Regions from separate parts of the Homo sapiens genome. Here region 2 is linked to region 1. Evidence: fine-mapped expression QTL. A gene starts in region 1. The other region holds a variant in brackets. All regions are shown on one strand. Distances are between the middles of the regions.

Region 1 (5,527 bases):
CATATACCTATGTATAATGTATGTGTGTGTGTATATGTGTGTGTGTATATATATATATATATATATATATATATATATATATATAAAATGGATAGGTATGTTGTCCTGCCTGTAAAATACCACCCAGTGTGCCAATTGAAATATATATAATTTTTAAATATTTATATATGTATTTTATATATATTATATATATATATATATATATATATATATATTTTTTTTTTTTTTTTTTTTTTTTTTTTAAAGAGTGTCTTACTCTGTCACCCAGACTGGAGTGCAGTGGCACAGTCAGCTGACTGCAGCCTCAAACTTGGGCTCAAATAATCCTGCCATCTTAGTGTCCTGAGTTGCTGGGAATACAGGCATGTGCCACCACTCTTGGCTAATTAAAAAAAAAAAAAAATTGTAGAGACAGGGTCTTGCATTGTTGCCTAGGCTGGTCTCAAAACTCCTGGCCTCAAGCAATCCACCTTGGCCTCCCAAAGTGCTGGGTTTACAGGCATGAGCCACTGTGGCTGATACATGTACTTTTAATTTTTCGTTTTTCTTTTTTTCCCCCTCTAGTCTCTAGTTACATACCGTAAGTGGATATTTTGACCTCCCATGAATCACAAATGTTCTTAATGGCATCTCGAATGATGAATCCTTTCCAGAAGATTTTCAATTTACTTTGCTCAGAACTATCAGAGGAATCATGATGACAGCTATAGCCTTATGAAATGTATTTTGTAAATAAGACTTGAAAGTCAAAATTTCTCCTTGATCCCTGGGCTTCAGAATGGATGTTGTGTTAGCAAGCACGATAACAGCATCAGTCTCTGTACATCTCTATCAGAACTCTTGGATGACCAGGTGTATTGTCAATGAGGAGTAATATTTTGAAAGGAACCTTTCTTCTGAGCACTAGAGCTCAACAGTGGGCTTTAAATATTCTCTAAGCCATGCTGTAAATAGATGTGCTGTCACTAACTAGCCTTTGTTGGTCCATTTATAGATCATATTTAGCATAATTCTTAAGGGCACTAGGATTTTCAGAATGGTAAAGGAATGTTGGCTTTAAAGTCATCAGTTGTATTAGCCCCTAACAAGAGCATCAGCCTGTTCTTTGAAGCTTTGAAGACAGGCATTGACTTCTCTCTAGCTATGAAAGTCTTAGATGGAATCTTCTTCCAATAGAAGGCCGTTTCATATACATTTAAGATCTGTTGTTTTGGCTGGGCACGGTGGCTCACACCTGTAATCCCAGCACTTTGGGAGACCGAGGCGGGCAGATTGCTCAAGGTCAGGAGTTCAAGACCAGCCTGGCCAAACATGGTGAAACTCTGTCTCTACTAAAAATACAAAATTAACCTGGACATGGTGGCACATCCTGTAATCCCAGTTACTTGGGAGGCTGAGGCAGAAGAATCGTTTGAACCCAGGAGGCAGAGGTTGCAAAAGATCGCACCACTGTACTCCAGCCTTGGTGACAAAGCAAGACTGTCTCAAAAACAAAAGATTGTTGTTTAGTGTAGCTGCCTTTATCAATGATTTTAGCTAGATCTGGATAACCTGATGCAGCTTCTACGTTAGCACCTGCTGCTTCACCTTGCACTTTTATGTCATGAAGATAGTTTCTTTCCTTAAACCTCAGGAACCATCCTCTCTGCTAGCTTCCAGCTTTTCTTTTGCAATTCCCTCACCTCTCTCAGCCTCCATAGAATTGAAGAGTTAGGGCCTTGCTCTGGATTAGGCTTTGGCTTAAGGGAATGTTGTGGCTGTTTTTATCTTCTATCCAGACCAACTAGAACTTTCTCCATATCAGCAATAAGGCTGTTTAGCTTTATTGTCTTTTGTGTGTTTACTGGAGTAGCATTTTTAATTTCCTTCAAAATTTTTTCCTTTGCATTCATGACTTGGCTTTTCTCCTTTGCACTCACAACTTGGCTAACTGGAGCAAGAAGCCTAGCTTTCTGCCTACCAACATTACTTCCTCACTAACTTAATCATGTTTGCTTTTGATTTAAAGTGACAGGCTCTTCCTTTCATTTGGACACTTAGAGGCCTTTGTAGGATTATTAGTTGGCCTAATTTCAAAATTGTGTTTCCAGGAATAGGGAGGCCCCAGGAGGGGGAGAGAGAAGGGAAAGTTCGGTGGAACAGTCCAAACACATACAGGGCTTATGGATTAATTTCCCCTTCCTTTATGAGCGCGGTTCATGGTGCCCCAAAACAATTGCAATAATATTAAAGATTACTGATCACAGATCACAACAGCAGACATAATAACAATGAAAAATTTTGAAATATTGCGAGAGTACCAAAATGTGACACAGAGACACAAAGCGAGCCAATGTTGAAATACAGGCAGTATCTGCTAAGCGGTATAAAACAATCTATGCCTGTACCTCTAGAAAGTACAGGCATAGCAAAGTAAGGAATAGCAAATGTTTGGGGCAGCTGGGATTAAATGAGTCCGAGCTCACACAAGTGATGTGAAATTGCCTCGGGCTAGGCGGTCTGTGTGTCCCCCCGGGTGGCAACTGGCATGTCCCCAGGGCACGGTTAGTCCCAGCGGGCCTGGAGGCGAAGACCGCGTACCTCTCCCTGCCCCCGCGCTCTTGGTCCCCGCGGGCTCCGGAGCGACTGGGAGGAGCTTTAACTCTGGGAAGGACCAGCCCGATCCACGGGAGCCCGGGCGGCGCGCAATCAGAACCAACTGGCCCCACGCTCGGGGGCAGGGGGCGGGGCCGCCGAGGAAGGGCCGAGGGCGGGGCCGGGCCCGGGAGCCTGTGGCTTCAGGAAGAGGAGGGCAAGGTGTCTGGCTGCGCGTTTGGCTGCAATGAGCTCGGCCTCGGGGCTCCGCAGGGGGCACCCGGCAGGTAGGCAGGGGGCGTCGACTGGGCACCGAGCAGGTCTGCGTCTTGCTCCGGCTGGAGGGGAAACGAGGGTTAGTGGACCGGGCGCGCGGACCGGAGTGGGGCCGCGGGTTCCTTCGGCTTTGCAGGGCGGCCTGGAGAAGTTGCACTCTTGGATTGAAGCGCTCAGGGCGGGTGGGGACGGTTTCGCGCTTCAGTCTAAGAAACACTCGGGGACCTGGCTGCCGCCTCCTGGCGGTCCCGAGTAGCGACGCCGGCGCCGGGGCGTGCCCCTGCCGCCTTTGTCCTCCGGGGCGATGAGCGCTTTCGGGGCGCCCCGGCTGTTTAAACCTTAAAAGGCTGTCCCCACGCGGGCCTGGCGTTCCCCCACACCTGGCCGTTTGAAATGTTGGGGGTTGGATCTTTTGTTTGCTCACTTCGAAAAGTGAAAAGGAGGGGTTGTTCCGCCGAGTCATAATGAAAACATAACAGGCCCGCGGGGTGCCCGGGCCAAGACCCTGGGTCCTCCCGGGCTTCAGCTGGAGGCGGCCAGTTCCTGGCGGCCAGCACACCCCGGTATCTCTCTTCTTCATCCAGGAAACCTGCTGCTGTCTGTCGGTTTGAGCCAAAACCACAATAACTTTTTTCTGCAAAGTAATCAACTGCTAAGAGCGTACGTTCTGTCACTTATTACTGGTAAAGTTTAGAAACTTCAAGCCTGGCCAGAGTGAAACAAACAAAAAGGTCGAAACGCCTGCAGTTGGCCGGCCGTGGTGGCTCACGCCTTGTAATCCCAACACTTTGGGAGGCCGAGGCGGGCGGATCACCAGAGGTCGGGAGTTCTCGACCAGCCTAACTAACACGGTGAAACCCCGTCTCTACTAAAAATACAAAAAAATTAGCCAGGCCTGGGCGCAAGCTACTGGGGAGGCTGAGACAAGAGAATCGTTTGAACCCTGGAGGTGGAGGTTGCAGTGAGCCGAGATCGCCCCACTGCACTCCAACCTCGGCGACAGAGTGAGACTTCGAATCAAGAAGAAAAAAAAAAAAAAAGAACGAAACGCCTGCAGTTGGTTAGAGTGCCTTTGTTTAAGAACTCTTTATATTTTGCTGCACAAAGGAAATGGTGCTCCAGAGGCAAGCTGTAAAAGTCACATGGTCGTAGAGGAGGTAGATAGGTAGCCTTGTCCTGGAGGCACAGTGCAGGGTCCAGTTGCAGTCTCTAGGGGCGGGAAGCCGGGGCTTTCCTTCACTCACCTGCTCCCTTCCTCTTCTTCCTCCACCGCACTCCCCAGTGCATGTTCTAGGCCTGATGGAGGTTACTCTACATAGGGTTACTAAATACATTGTTGATGGAGCCGATGGGTAGATTTTCATAGAGAGTGCAGTGAATGAAGACGATGACAGTAGAATGACCGAAGTCGTTTGGGAAGTTGAACAAAGTTTAGAAAGGTAGCCGGTCTCGGGTGGGAGGGGCTGCGTGGGGATGGGCCTACAGAGACTTTGGAATCTGTAGGTGGGCTGGCTTTCAATCCCAGCTTCACTTTGCCGACCTTGGCACGCCTGGCCCACTTTCTCTGTCCCTGTTCCTGAGCTGTGGAGCTGTGAGATAAGGTATCTAAGGCATCAGGCCATCAACAAATGGTAGCTGGCAGGATTATCTGGAGGGACTATCAAATTAGAGTGAGGTGAAAAAAGGAATGATTAGTTTTGTAAAACCTAAGCTGATTTAAGGAATAAGGAGGTGGCAGTTACATTATCCTGCAAAGGAAGAGAAGTGAAAAGAGGGCCAGACACAGTGGTGGGCGCCTCTAGTCCCAGCTACTGGGGAGACTGAGGCAGGAGAATCGCTTGAAACCTGGAGGTGGACTTGCAGTGAGCCAAGATTGCGCCACTGCACTGCAGCCTGGGCGACAGAGGGAGGCTCTGTCTCAAAAAAAAAAAGTGAAAAGAGGTCAAGAATCAGGTTTAAAGAAGGGCACATTTTTGATAAGTAGATTGCAGATGAAAAGGAATTTCTATATCTGTTATACAGGGTAGCTCCTTCATTAAAATTTATTTTCTCCATATCAATAAAGCTATTTCTTACTTTATCCAGGTTTTTAAATATTAACGCAGGCCGGGCGTGGTGGCTCATGCTTGTAATCCCAGCACTTCCAGGAGGCTGAGGCAGGTGGATCACTTGAGGCCAGGAGTTCAAGACCAGCCAGGACAACATAGCAAAACCCTGTCTCTACTGAAAATACAAAAAAAAAGTAGCTGGGTGTGGTGGCGCATGCCTGTAATCCCAGCTACTCAGGAGGCTGAGGCGGGAGAATCGCTTGAACCCGGAGGCGGAGGTTGTGGTGAGCCGAGACCACGCCACTGCACTCCAGCCTAGGCAACAGAGCAAGACTCCATCCCAAAAAGATAGTAATAAAAAATAAATATTAATGCGGCATAATGATACTTAAGTGCCCCCTTCTGGAAAGCTTGTCTTCTTGGGATACACAGCTCAAGGTGGTCATGATGTGTTATTTTCTCTCAATCTGTGGGTAAAGTTTATCAACTCCAGAAAAGTATTGGAACTTAGGTCCTGGCATCTGTCTCCATAGCTTTTTGTTCTGATTCAGTGTTTGCTAGAGTGGCCACTGGACCTGGTCATTAACTGGTACTGCAGGATGCAGGGTGCACTTTGTGAGAGTGAAGGT
Region 2 (5,000 bases), 53 kb after region 1:
CCTCCTGACTAGCTGGGATTACGGGTGCATGCCACCAAGCCTGGCTAATTTTTTGTGTATTTTTAGTAGAGACGGGGTTTCTACCAGGTTGGTCAGGCTGGTCTTGAACTCCTAACCTCGCGATCCGCCCGCCTCAGCCTCCCAAAGTGCTGGGATTACAGGCGTGAGCCACCACACCCAGCCTGACCGTTCTTTATAAAGTTAAATATACATTTATATGTGACCCAGTAATCCCACCCCTAGCTCTTTACCCTAGAGAAATGAAAGCTTATGTTCATACAATTTGTACAAATGCCATTTCATTTCCTCCCACTAGAGTGCATACTCCCCAGGAGCAGGCAGGGACTTGGTCTGGTTCACTGCTGTATCCCCAGCACCTAGAATGGCGCCTGAAACATAATAGGGGCTCAGTAAATACACGTTAAATAAATGCAGGAATGTTTTCAAGATGCTAAGGAAAATAATTACCAACCTAGAATATTATGCTCAGGAAAATTACTTCAGGCTTGCTGTGATTTGATTGTGTCCCCCAGAGTCCATGTGTTGGAAACCTAATGCCCAATGCAACGGTGCTGGGAGGTGGGATCTAATGGGAGGTGCTTAGGTCATGAGGGCTCCACCTTCATAAATGGATTGATGCCAATTATAAAAGGGCCTGAGGCTGCGGGTTTGATTGAGCTTTCTCTCTCCGCCTCTTGCCCTTTCACCTTCTGCCATGGGATAATGCAGCAAGAAGAACCTGACCAGATGCGACCTCTCAATCTTGGATTTTCCAGCCTCCAGAACTGTGAACTAAATACATTTCTGTTCATTATTAATTACCCAGTCTATGGTTCTGTTACAGCAGCACAAAAGAGATTACAGCAAGGCTGAAAGAAATGAGTTTTTCAGGTATAATCAAGATTATGGCTTATTTCCACAGATTTTTGCTAAAGAACTTCTTCAGGAAGAAGAGAACTAAACTCAAGTGGAAGCTGAATAGAACACTATTATGAGCTGAACTGTGCCCCACCCCCTGCAAATTCATATATTGAAGTCTTAACCCCTAGTACCTCAGAATGTGACTGTACTTTAAAGAGGTTAAGTTAAAATGAGGTCATTAGTATAGGCCCTAATCCGACATAACTGGTGTCTTTACAAGAAGTGGTGATTTGGACAGACATGTACACCCAGAAGAAAGACGGTGTGAGGACACAGGGAGAAGACAGCCATTTACAAAACAGCCATGTACAAGCCAAGAAGGCTTCAGAAGAAACCAACTGAGCCAACACCTTGAACTTTAACTTTTGGCCTACAGAAGGGTGGCGAGGAAGGTTTCTAAACAGTGGAGGCGCAATTAGTGTGGGTGTCATAGCCCAAATGGGATGAAGACGGCCTCCACATGGGAAATAGGCTCAGAAAAAAATGTTGGAGCCCAGTTGGGGTAAGAAAGCCATCTCTGCAGGGGAAGGAGTGGTAGTGGAGATGAAAGACTGTCACATGCAGAAGAAAAAAATATATCAAGAATAATGGAAGTCAGATTTATCCTGTGCAAGAATGGAACTACAATTATGGAAAGGGAGTAGAATAAACCCTGTAGTGTTAGACTGAAGTACTGGTGTGAATTCATGGTTTTTAATGTGTAATAATGTAAAGAAATATAATTAAATGAAATTAAATATAAAATTTTTAAAAGATGCAAATGTTTAATGTACGTGTGTATGTAAGTATAGAAATTTTAAATTTTACATATTTATGTTTTCATACTGACATATATATGTATATGTATATTCTCTTTCTGAGAGAGCCTATGAGCAGTGGCACTTCTAATAACATCTAGCATCTAGCTCTTGGCACCAGATACTATGCTTACCTAAGAGGAAGCAAGCCTCCTTGGAGAAATGGCTATTCTAGGGCTGGGCATGGATAAGGACAAAATGAACCTAGAGCATCTTGCTGTACTAGAAAGCAAGGAAGTGCTCAATGGATGATGGAAGACTTATCAAAAGAACCCAGAAGGCAGGTCAAAGGGTGTCCCTGTGGTAAAATCTGGAACAATTTTTAGCATTAAATAATGATAGTAACAAATTATAATCCACTGAAGGAGATAG[G/C]AAACCATGAGTGTATTCTGACATAATTAACTGAATAAATTTAAAGTTTAATAAGGAATGAGATATTTACACAGTTTTAAAATGCCTTCACACAAAAGCATTAATCCCAAAGGAAAAATAATAACTTCAAAGGGAAGAAGCCTGACAGATACCATCTTAATTGATCAAAATTAATATTATCAGTAATGGGGTGAGTTGAAATCATGCAATGAGAATACATGGGACACTTTTGAGATATTCCCGACAAAGATGCTATATAATCTGAAGCAAATCACAAGGAAATACCAGACAAACCCAAACAGAGGCATTCTACAAAATAATTGTAATCTTTAAAAGAGTCAAATCATGAATGTCAAAGAATGTTGTACTGATCCAGAGTGGAGGAGACATGACAACTAAATTAAACTGTGATTCTGAACTTCTGCCAATAAAGAACATTATTGGAAAAATTGGCAAGATTTTAATGAGGTCTAAAAATTAGATGGTGGTTATGTACTAACATTAATTTTCCTATTTTGATGGTTGTTTGTCATTAAGTTGGAGAATGTTCTTATGTTTCAGGGGAACTGGCATCAAGTTTGCAATGTATTCTCAAATAGTTCAGAAACAAAATAGTCTTCCCACTGTGGTTACAACTTTCTTTATGTTATGTTTGAGACTGTTTCAAAATCACACAATTCTGAGAGACTGGTAGGCCAGGGTAAAAAAAATTAATAATTCAAAAACAATAGGTTTACAACACCAAAATTACCATATACAAAGATAAGTGATTAATAACAAGGGGTCAAATATTAAACCTTTTTTGCATGCCAGTAGGAAACTATGGTTACTTGGGAAATTGAAAATAAAAAATTTTTTAAAGCAAAGACACTCCTGTACAAGTTTTTATTTAGAAACCCCAAGAATATTGACAATCCTCAGACATGTTAGTAAAGCTTAAAAGAGAAACTACCATACCCTGTAACAACCCTTTTTAGAGGGTTATTATTAAAATTCTGAAAATCTTACACAAACCCATCATGCATGCAGAGCTGAATTTCAAGAATGACTCACCAAAACTCAGGTCTTCCTTTTAGTTTACACCTCACCTCAAACCCATCTTGAGGAGCCTACCATTCCCCCCTTGATAGGGGGATATGATAGTTTTGAATAAACAAATGGTATGAACCAAATCTGTTGCTTTTCATTTAATCCAGTTAGCCGGGCTGCTCCTCCATACCACACCTGGGTTCAGATTCCCCAAATCAGGCCCCACTTCTCAAATCTAAGGATTCTCAGGATGAGTCCTTAGATTTAAGAAGTATAATGAGTCCTAGCTGGACGCAGTGGCTCATGCGTGTAATCCGAACACTTTGGGAGGCTGAGGCAGGAAGATTATTTGAGCCCAGGGGTTCAAGACTAGCCTGGGCAACAGGGTGAAACCATATTTCTATTTTAAAAAATCATAATAAATGAGTCCCAGGCAGGAAAAATGAAATTAACTCTGTCCCTGACACAATGTGATGAAACTACAGAACCCCAGAAACAAAAAATTCTTATAATGCCTGAAAAAAAAAGAGATTGCCTACAAAGGAAAGCAATTAAATTTACATAAGGTGAATTAATAGACGGCAGAGGCAAAGGAGTATCTTCAAAGTTCTGAGGGGAAATAACAATCAACCTTGAATTCTATAGTCAGATAACCTACCATTTTGAACAAAACTGAGACTGAGCGACTAAAACATGTTTACTGAAAGCATTTTGCAGGAAAAAGGAAATCAAACACATAAGAAAACAGGATGTAAGAAAACTTACACACCACAGGATGTAAAACTAAATGAAGAGAGAAAAAAAGTGTGTACTTCCAAACCAATAGAGATAAAGGAGTATAAAAAAACATTTAGCCAAATTATGAGAAGATAAGAAAGGAGAAAGAAAATGAGCAAAGGAAAATCAGGATGAACAGAATGCACAGAATAAGGTGGTAGATAGATATCCACATTTGTCTGATATCACAATAAATGTAAACAGATTAAACTCAACAGTTAAAAGGACAGAAGTTGTTGGATTTATAACAACACAGACTGAGGGTTTAACTACTCATAGGCTTTCATTGAAGGCACTACTCAGCTGTAGTGAACAAAATGTAACACGAACAAGGAATAAGAATGCATGAGAAATTCTGAACAAGCAAATTGGTAAAATATATGCATAAAATAAATAAAAACTCCATCATTTTAAATGTTGTTTTCCGTGTCACTTAATATAGCGTACTTTTGTACTCCACAGAAACAAGAAATTCTTGTGTGAGGCAAGAAAAATGGTGCTTTTGGGGTTAGGCTGCTTTGTACTCCTCAGTTACATAGTTGTTTTGCTTTGAAGCTTGTCTTTGGGTTCATTAGTTCTACATCCTGTGGTGCATCATGATCTTTTGTAGAATCTCACACTGAGCGTCAAGCTTTAATGATTTTTTTTTTTTTTTTTGCTTCTCTGTACCAAAAAAAAAAAAAAAAATCAAACTGCTATATAGGAGCTCTCTTTTGATGAACTCTTACTTGCCTCTAGATCTATGTATCTCCCTAACAAAAACTGCATTTTGTAGCACAGACTAGAAAGTTATCTTAATATTTCAGTCTCAGGTACTACATGAATCATCACTGTGAAAATAAATTTTTTCTTCTTCTGGTCTGGACAGCCCAAGACGAGTAGTTAATCCACAAAATGACTGAAACAGAACAGAAACAGAATACGTTTGGCATTTGGCTAATACAGTACAGAAACAGAATACATACATACAATATTTGGCTAGCAGCCAACAATAACTTCCACCTACTGTAATTTCTCACCAGCTCCCTCTCAGCTAGACTGTATTTACATCCCTTCTGAGAACCAGGCATTTAAGTCAGTCATCCCTTTGGAACTGATCTCAAC

Evidence for each region. PIP is the estimated chance that this variant, and not a neighbour inherited with it, causes the effect.
Region 2: its variant is the best candidate, but not a certain one, in a credible set for the expression of CASP6 in whole blood (TOPMed, PIP 0.65).

What each region holds. Positions count from the first base shown.
Region 1 is chr4:109,700,690-109,706,216 of GRCh38, reverse strand. CASP6 (caspase 6) reads left to right here and starts at 2,772. Exons shown (of 7, transcript NM_001226.4): 1 at 2,772-2,861. The coding sequence starts at 2,822. RefSeq lists enhancers at 2,351-2,400, 3,291-3,350, 4,111-4,170 and silencers at 2,561-2,850, 3,001-3,110.
Region 2 is chr4:109,648,278-109,653,277 of GRCh38, reverse strand. All of the region lies in intron 1 of MCUB (mitochondrial calcium uniporter dominant negative subunit beta), which reads right to left. Among named protein-coding and RNA genes, the nearest start is that of CASP6, 53 kb to the left of the region's middle. The variant G/C (reference allele first, on the strand shown) is at 2,091.